2 linked regions of the Homo sapiens genome follow. Changing the gene in region 2 together with the main gene of any one other region gives a genetic interaction. Each region holds a gene or a part of one and is shown on either strand. Other genes may lie near its edges.

The links.
Region 1: of FPR1 (region 2) and PIK3R5, changing one enhances a phenotype caused by changing the other (phenotypic enhancement), as found in Homo sapiens cells (one study listed by BioGRID).

What each region holds. Positions count from the first base shown.
Region 1 is NC_000017.11:8,881,862-8,885,772, reverse strand, and holds part of PIK3R5 (phosphoinositide 3-kinase regulatory subunit 5), read left to right. Parts: intron 1-589; exon of another isoform or gene 590-989; coding exon 990-1,066; exon of another isoform or gene 1,067-1,207; intron 1,208-3,891; coding exon 3,892-3,911. UniProt on the Homo sapiens protein: Regulatory subunit of the PI3K gamma complex. Required for recruitment of the catalytic subunit to the plasma membrane via interaction with beta-gamma G protein dimers. Required for G protein-mediated activation of PIK3CG.
Region 2 is NC_000019.10:51,745,239-51,749,149, forward strand, and holds the end of FPR1 (fMet-Leu-Phe receptor), read right to left. Parts: intron 1,768-3,911; 5' UTR 1,757-1,767; coding exon 704-1,756; 3' UTR 535-703; downstream 1-534. UniProt on the Homo sapiens protein: High affinity receptor for N-formyl-methionyl peptides (fMLP), which are powerful neutrophil chemotactic factors. Binding of fMLP to the receptor stimulates intracellular calcium mobilization and superoxide anion release.

The sequences.
Region 1 (3,911 bases), on a different chromosome or scaffold from region 2:
GGGAGGGCGGGGTTACCCAGGAGGTGGGGCCATGGGAGGGCGGGGTTACCCAGGAGGTGGGGCCATGGGAGGGCGGGGTTACCTAGGAGGCAGGGCCATGGGGAGGCGGGGCCCTGGGGAGGCGGGGTTACCCAGGAGGTGGGGCCATGGGGGGGCGGGGTTACCTAGGAGGCAGGGCCATGGGGAGGCGGGGTTGTCCGGTAGGTGGGGCCTTGGGGAGGCAGGGTTACCGGGAGGCAGGGCCATGGGAAGATGGAGTTACCCAGGAGGCGGGGCCCTGGGGAGGCGGGGTTACCCAGGAGGTGGGGCCATGGGAGGGCGGGGTTACCCAGGAGGCGAGGCCATGGGGAGGCGGGGTTGCCTGGTAGGTGGGGCCCTGGGGAGGCAGGGGTACCGGGAGGCAGGGCCATGGGAAGGTGGAGTTACCCACGAGGCAGGGCCCTGGGGAGGCGGTGTTACCCAGGAGGCAAGGCCATGGGGAGGCGGGGTTGCCTGGAAGGCAGGGCCCTGGGGAGGCACGGTTACCGGGAGGCAGGACCATGGGAAGGGGGGTTACATGGGAGGTCGGGCCAGGTGGAGGCAGGCTTACCCAGCAGGTGGGCCCTGGGGAGGCAGGGTTACCCAGGAGGTGGGGCCCTGGAGAGGCAGGACCCTGGGAAGGTGTGATCACAGCGGAGATGGGGCCCTGGAGAGGCAGGACCCTGGGAAGGTGTGATCACAGCGGAGATGGGGCCCTGGAGAGGCAGGACCCTGGGAATGTGTGATCACAGCGGAGATGGGCCCTGGAGTGATGGGGTCACTGAGGAGGTGGAGATCCCCAGAACGTGGAGCCAGAGAGAGAGGCAGGGCCTTGGTGAGACAGATCCCTAGGGAGTCACGGTCCATGTGGTAGGGGATGGGGAGGTAAGGCCCAGGGAGGCAAGGCCACTGCGTTCGTGAGGAGCCGGGGAAGCCAGGGGTAGTGAAGGGTCTGTCTGTGTGTGGCACAGGTCCTGGCAGCAAGCGGCTGGGCATCGATGGCGACCGGGAGGCTGTTCCTCTAACACTACAGATTATTTACAGCAAGGTAAGACCCGTGCTGGGGCTCCTTCCCCTCCAGGATCTGCTGCTGATACTTCCTCCGCCAGAGCTTGGACCCAGAGCTGGACTCGTGTGTTCCTGGGCCCCAGTCTTTACGCTGGAAGGCTGCAGCAGGCTCCCCTGGATGCTGAGAGAAGCAGAGAAGGGAAGGAGTGGATATCTCTGTGCTTCTTGGCCTCCAAAGCCTCTCTCCCACCATGTTCTCTGCCCCCACCCGAATGCGCTCAGCAGCAGCCCAGGGGTAGGGGTCTGCTGGGCCTGGCTACAGGGCTGGGGCTGAAAGGGGGAAAGGGAAGCCTTCCAGAGGCACCTCAGGGAGAAGCCAGGGTCTCGGGGGGCCAGTGTGCCTGGCAGGCTGCATGCAAGATGGGATTGGCGTGAGAAAGGAGTGAGGAGAGCTGTGGGGAGGTGGAGGGCTGTCCATGACATGCCAGAAGACATGAGTTCTCTGAGCAGGTCGCATCCCAAGGTCCAGGCTGAGGGAAGCTTGGCCTCACAGGTGGGCTTCTTCCTTCGGCCATTCCAAAGATATCCTCTTAGCACCTGCCCATGCTGCCTCTGTGCTGGGCAGGGGAAAAGAGGGGTTGAGCAGGGAAGCCTAGGCCTCACTTTAGCTTGTCTAGAGGAGGGAGACAGACAAGAAACGAGGAAACAAAGAAATAGCCAAGATAATTCCAGAGAGCGGCAAGTGATGACAAAGCAATAAAACAGCAGATGGACGGTGGTGTTGGGGCTGCAGTGCGTTTGGCAGTGAAGGAGGTGGGCAGGAGGCACCGACACTCACTGTAGCCACATGCCAGGTGCTTGCTAGACGTCTTCCACAGCCCAGGCACTGTTCTAGGCCCTGGAGCCTTCCTAAGAGTGAACAAAGGACAGACGTGGTCCCAGGAGACCTGCTGGCCCCCTGGAGTGGGTGGTAGGCATTGGTTCGATGATGCACACGATGTAAAATTACAACTGTGACACATGGATGAGGAGAGGGACACGGGATGTTCCTAAGTGGCAAACCGAACCCAGTCAGGAGAGTTAGTAGTGAAGGCTTCCTTGAGAAGGCACCTGAGTTAATATTGGAGGGAAAACCAGGAATTAATTAGGCTGAGAAGAGAGGTGAGTGCTCTCACAGCAGCAGAAACTGCATGTGCAAAGGCCCTGTGGTGGGAGGCAGTGTGAACACCTTGAAGCACTCTGAAAGAAGACCCCCAGGCTGGAGCAGAGACAGCTGGTGGGAACATGATGCTGAGGTGAGGCTAAAGAAATGGGGGACCAGCATACCAAGAGCCTTAATTGCAATGAAAGGAGTTTTGTGGTTTTTTGTTTGTTTTTTTGAGACATAGTCTCGCCCTGTTTCTCAGGCTAGAGTGCAATGGCTCAATCTTGGCTCACTGCAACATCCGCCTCCCTGGTTCAAGCAATTCTCCTGCCTCAGCCTCCTGAGTAGCTGGGTAGCAGGTGCCCGCCACCACACCCGGCTAATTTTTTGTATCTTTAGTAGAGACGGGGTTTCACCACGTTGGCCAGGCTGGTCTCGAACTCCTGACCTCATGATCCACCTGCCTTGGCTTCCCAAAGTGCTGGGGTTACAGGCATGAGCCACCACGCCCGACCCAATGAAAGGAATTTTATCCTAGTCCTAAGAGCAGTGGATATCCATTAAGGGGGCTTATGTTTGTGGTGGGGCTGGGAATGCCTGTGACATGATTATATCTGAGGCTTGGAAGCTCCCTCTGGCAGCTCTGTGGAGGACAGATAGGAAGGGTCCACAAGTGATGCAGGAAGGCCAGTTAGGAGGCTGTTGCCATGGTCCAGAAGAGAAATTAGGGCAGCAGCCTGCACTAGGGTAGTGGTGGCAGAGCTGGAAAGGAATGGGAGACAGATGTGAGTGATGTAATCAGCAGGGCCCATGGATGGGTTAGGAAAGGAGAGGCCAGACTCCTGGAGTCACTCCTCTGTGACTGGCAGCACCATCTTCTCTGGGGGGACCACAGGAAGAGGCCGGGGTCCAGTTGGGGAAGAGCTTGAGTTTGGGTCGGGACATATTATTGAGGTTGAGAGGCCTTGAGAGGTATAAGGAGACAGTGAGAATAGACGGCTGGCTGAACGGGCCTGACTTTGTGGTGAATATGAAGATGGGTGGACAGCTGCTAATGGAAAAAGGTCACGGAGGAGACTCCTGAAGGGGGGAAGCAGGGAATACAAAGAGCAGAGGACCAAGGGGAGAACCTTGAGCCCTTCATGATGTAATGGCGGGCAGAGGGCAGCGATCCAGCAAAGCAGAGAGGCACCAGCCAGAGAGGCGCTAGAAAAACCAGGAAGGTGCCATCACGAAAGCCCAGGAGAGGTTTTCAAGGAGGGGAGAGCAGTGAACTGTAAGGTCAAGTAAGCTGAGGACCAAGAAGTGTTCTTCGGTTTAACAACATGGAGGTCCCTGATGACAGAGACATTCACACAAAGACTTGAAGAGGGGGTTCAGGTCTGGCTCTGCCAGAAACAGCATGTCTGTGGGCCCAACCCTTCTTCACTCTGGGCCCGGCAGGAGAGCTTCAGGACCACCCCTGCAGGTGCTCTCAGCTCTTGTACCTTTCAACCTGGTCACAGAGGCTGCTGACCCCTAGACCAAGCCAGTGACGTGAGCTCTTCCCTGGAGTCATCCAGGTCTATCCAGGGTGGTACAGGGGCCCTGGTGAATAAGAGAGGGCTTTCTGGGGATATGCTAACTAGAGGCAACCCCCTGTCACTGATGGGCCTTCAAAGAGAAGGCAGCAGGCACCGGGGCCTCTGGACTCAGAGGGTCTGGCTACACTGCATTTCCAGGGGGCCATCAGTGGACGAAG
Region 2 (3,911 bases):
TCCGCCTTCCAGGTTCAAGCGATTCTCCTGCCTCGGTCTCCTGAGTAGCTGGGATTACGGGAGCCTGCCACTACGCCCAGCTAATTTTTGTATTTTTAGTAGAGACAGGGTTTCACCATGTTGGCCAGGCTGTTCTCGAATTCCTGACCCCTGGTGATCCGCCTGCCTCGGCCTCCCAAAGTGCTGGGATTACAGGCATGAGCCACCGCTCCTGCCCTATATAAAGTATCTTCTTGTATATCTTGTCTGATTTAAGCCATACTCTTTCACACTTCTCCCTCCTCCTTCATTTACCTAGGATGACTATATAATTTATTTTTCACAGCAGGGCACTTTTCAGAATGGAAGTGGACACTACTCATCATGATGCCAGAATGATGGGTATCATTCACTACTCATAATTCAGGACTAATAATAATGGGTATTATTTGGGTTCATTTCAGGCAAACTAGGATGCAGATGACAGCTTCTTCCTATCATTTCCCACCCTGACCACCCAAGGCTGAGGTCCAAAATCAAAAAAGAAGTCAATAATAAACTCATATCTGTTTATTCTCCCCAAATCAGGGGACACAAAGGCTTTTTTTTTTTTTTCTGATGAGTGGGTAATCCTAAAATAAGCAGGAAATGCCTGTGGCTCAGCCTAACTCAAGGTGAGACGAAGCTGGAGCTGGGAGCTCGAAAGTGTCCCCCAGCTCCCTCCTCACTTTGCCTGTAACTCCACCTCTGCAGAAGGTAAAGTAGAATTGGTAGCTGTGTCACTGGTTTGGGTTGAGTCCTCGGTCAGGGCCCTCTCCAGACTGGCGGGAAGGGCGTGGATCAGCCTCTCCCGGAAGTCCTGGCCCATGAAGACATAGAGCATGGGGTTGAGGCAGCTGTTGAAGAAGGCCAGGGCACTTGTCACATCCACTGCAATACCAATTTCTTTGTACATGCCTTGCAATAACTCACGGATTCTGACTGTGGCTATAAGGGCCACCACCTGATATGGGGACCAGCAGAGAAAAAAGGCTGCTGCGACAAAGGAGAGGACCCGTAAGGGACGACTGGACTTAATCAAGCCTTGCTTGTGGATCTTGGTGGCAATAAGCCCATAACTGACAGCAACGATGGACATGGGTGCGCTGAAGCCAATGATGAACCGGATGATGCCTCTCACCGTCAACATGGCAACGGCCACATTTATCCTCTCTTTAGGGTCGTTGGTCCAGGGCGAAAAGTTAAAAGTGCAGGCTACTGTCCCCGTTTTACCAGGTACTGTAGTCACACGAATGATAACTGGCAATGTGAGGAGCAGAGCCATCACCCAGGGCCCAATGATCACCTTCTTGGCCAGGCTCACGGTGCGGTGGTTCTGGGTCCAGACTGGATGCAGGACGCAAACACAGCGGTCCAGAGCAATGAGGGCGATCAGGAAGACACTTCCGAACAAGTTGATGTCCACTATGGTAAAGACGAATTTGCACAGGAACCAGCCGAAAGGCCAATGTCCTCCCATGGCCTTCCTGACCATGAAGAATGGCAAAGTGGAGGTGAAACAGAAGTCAGCCACGGCCAGGTTCAGGTAACTGATGGTGGTGACTGTGTGTGTCATCCGGAATCCAGCCACCCAGATCACAAGCCCGTTGCCCAGGACCCCGAGGACAAAGGTGACTGCAAATACCAGATAAGTGATGATATCCAGGAAGAGATAGCCAGCAGATACAGCAGGTGTCCCTCCAGAGATGTTCGTGGGGAGAGAGGAATTTGTCTCCATCTTGTCTGCTCCTGAAATAGTGCAGTCGTGGTCATTCCTCAGTTATGAACCTCCGTACCATTTCCCCACCCCCTCATTTCTGCCCCTGCCAGTTTTCCCACTCCTAGCTTTCTCACCTTCCCCTAGAGCTCCCACAACAGCCGGAACATCCTCACCACTGTCCCTTACACATGCCCACATCTATACATTGGCAATCTTTTATTGTACCTGTTGGGCAAGATTACATCTTTTTTTTTTTTTTTGAGATGGAATATTGCTCTGTCACCCAGGCTGGAGTGCAGTGGCGTGATCTCTCACTGCAACCTCCACCTCCCGGGTTCAAGCAATTCCCCTGCCTCAGCGTCCTGAGTAGCTGAGACTACAGGTATGCACCACCCCACTCCTGGCTAATTTTCGTATATTTAGTAGAGGTGGGGTTTTGCCATGTTGGCCAGGCTGGTCTTGAACTGCTGACCCCAGGTGATCCACCCACCTCAGCCTCCCAAAGTGCTGGGATTACAGACGTGAGCTACCACGTGTGGCCAAGATTGCATCTTATGACACATCCTCATAATTGCTAACATGCAAGCCCCTACCAGGGAGATTAAATGGCTAAGGAAGATAGGGTCCTTGACCTCCAAGAGGAGAATATGGGGCCAAAGATGTATAGAGAAAACATGTATTCAAACAAAAATGTTCATAGAGACACTCCTCCCTATAGCCAAAAGGTAGAAACAACCCAGATGTCCATCAACAGATGAATGGATAAACAAAATGTGGTTTATCCACCCAATGGAATATTATTCTGCCATAAAAAACAATGAAGCACTGATATATGCTACAACGTGGCTGAACCTTGAAAACATTACTCTAAACAAAAGAGGGCTGGATGTGGTGGTTCACGCCTGTCATCTCAGAGCTTTGGGAAGCCGAGGTAGGAGGGTTGCTTGAGCTCAGGAGTTCATGATCAGCCTGAGCCACATAGCAAGATCCTCATCTCTAACAACAACAACAACAAAATTAAATTAAATTAGCTGGATGTGGTGGCACACACCTGTAGTCCTAGCTACTCAGAAGGGTGAGATGGGAGGCTCACTTGAGCCCAGGAATTCAAGGTTAATAGTGTACTATGATTGAGCCACTGCACTCCAGCCTGGGCAACAAAGCAAGACCCTGTCTCTAAAATGAAAGAAAAAAGAAAGGAAGGAAAGAAGGAGGAAGGAAGGAGAGAAGGAAGGAAGACACCACAAGTCACATTTTGTATGATTCCACTTGTATGAAATATCCAGAGTAGCCAAACTCACAGAGACCGAATGCAGATTAGTGATTGCCAGGGACTGGGGAAACTAGGAAGTGGGGAATTGTTGCTTAATGAATATGCAGTTTTTGCTTGGTGTGATTAAAAAGTTCTGGAACTAGATAATGGTTATGGTTGCAACACACTGTAGATGTACTTAATGCCATTGAATTGTACATTTAAATGGGTAACTTTTTTATTGTTGTTTGAGACGCAGTCTCGTTCTGTCACCCAGGCTGGAGTGCAGTGGTGCGATCTTGGCTCACTGCAACCTCCGCCTCCCGCGTTTAAGTGATTCTCCTGCCTCAGCCTCCTGAGTAGCTGGAATTACAGGCACTTGCCACCATGCCCAGCTAATTTTTATATTTTTGTAGAGATGGGGTTTCACCATGTTGGCCAGCCTGGTCTCAAACTCCTTGACCTCAGGTGATCTGCCCGCCTCGGCGTCCCAAAGTGCTGAGATTATAGGCGTGAGCCACTGTGCCCAGCCTAAAATGGTTAACTTTTTGTATTTTACCATCAATTTAATAAAGGAAAAATAAGAGCATAAGATATCAGAAAATCAGTGGGCGACAGCTTCAGTGACCTAGTGTCACACAAACGTGGACTAAGACTTTCTCTCACCCATAACACTGCATAAGAACTATAAGGTATGCAACTTCTCAGCCAGGCGCAGTGGCTCACGCCTGTAATCCCAGTACCTTGGGAGGCCGAGGCGGGTGGATCATGAGGTTAGCAGTTCGAGACCAGCCTGGCCAACATGGAGAAGCCCCATCTCTACTAAAAATACAAAAATTAGCCAGGCATGGCGGTGGGTGCTTTTAGTCCCAGCTACTCCAGAGGCTGAGGCAGGAGAATCACTTGAACGTGGGAGGCGGA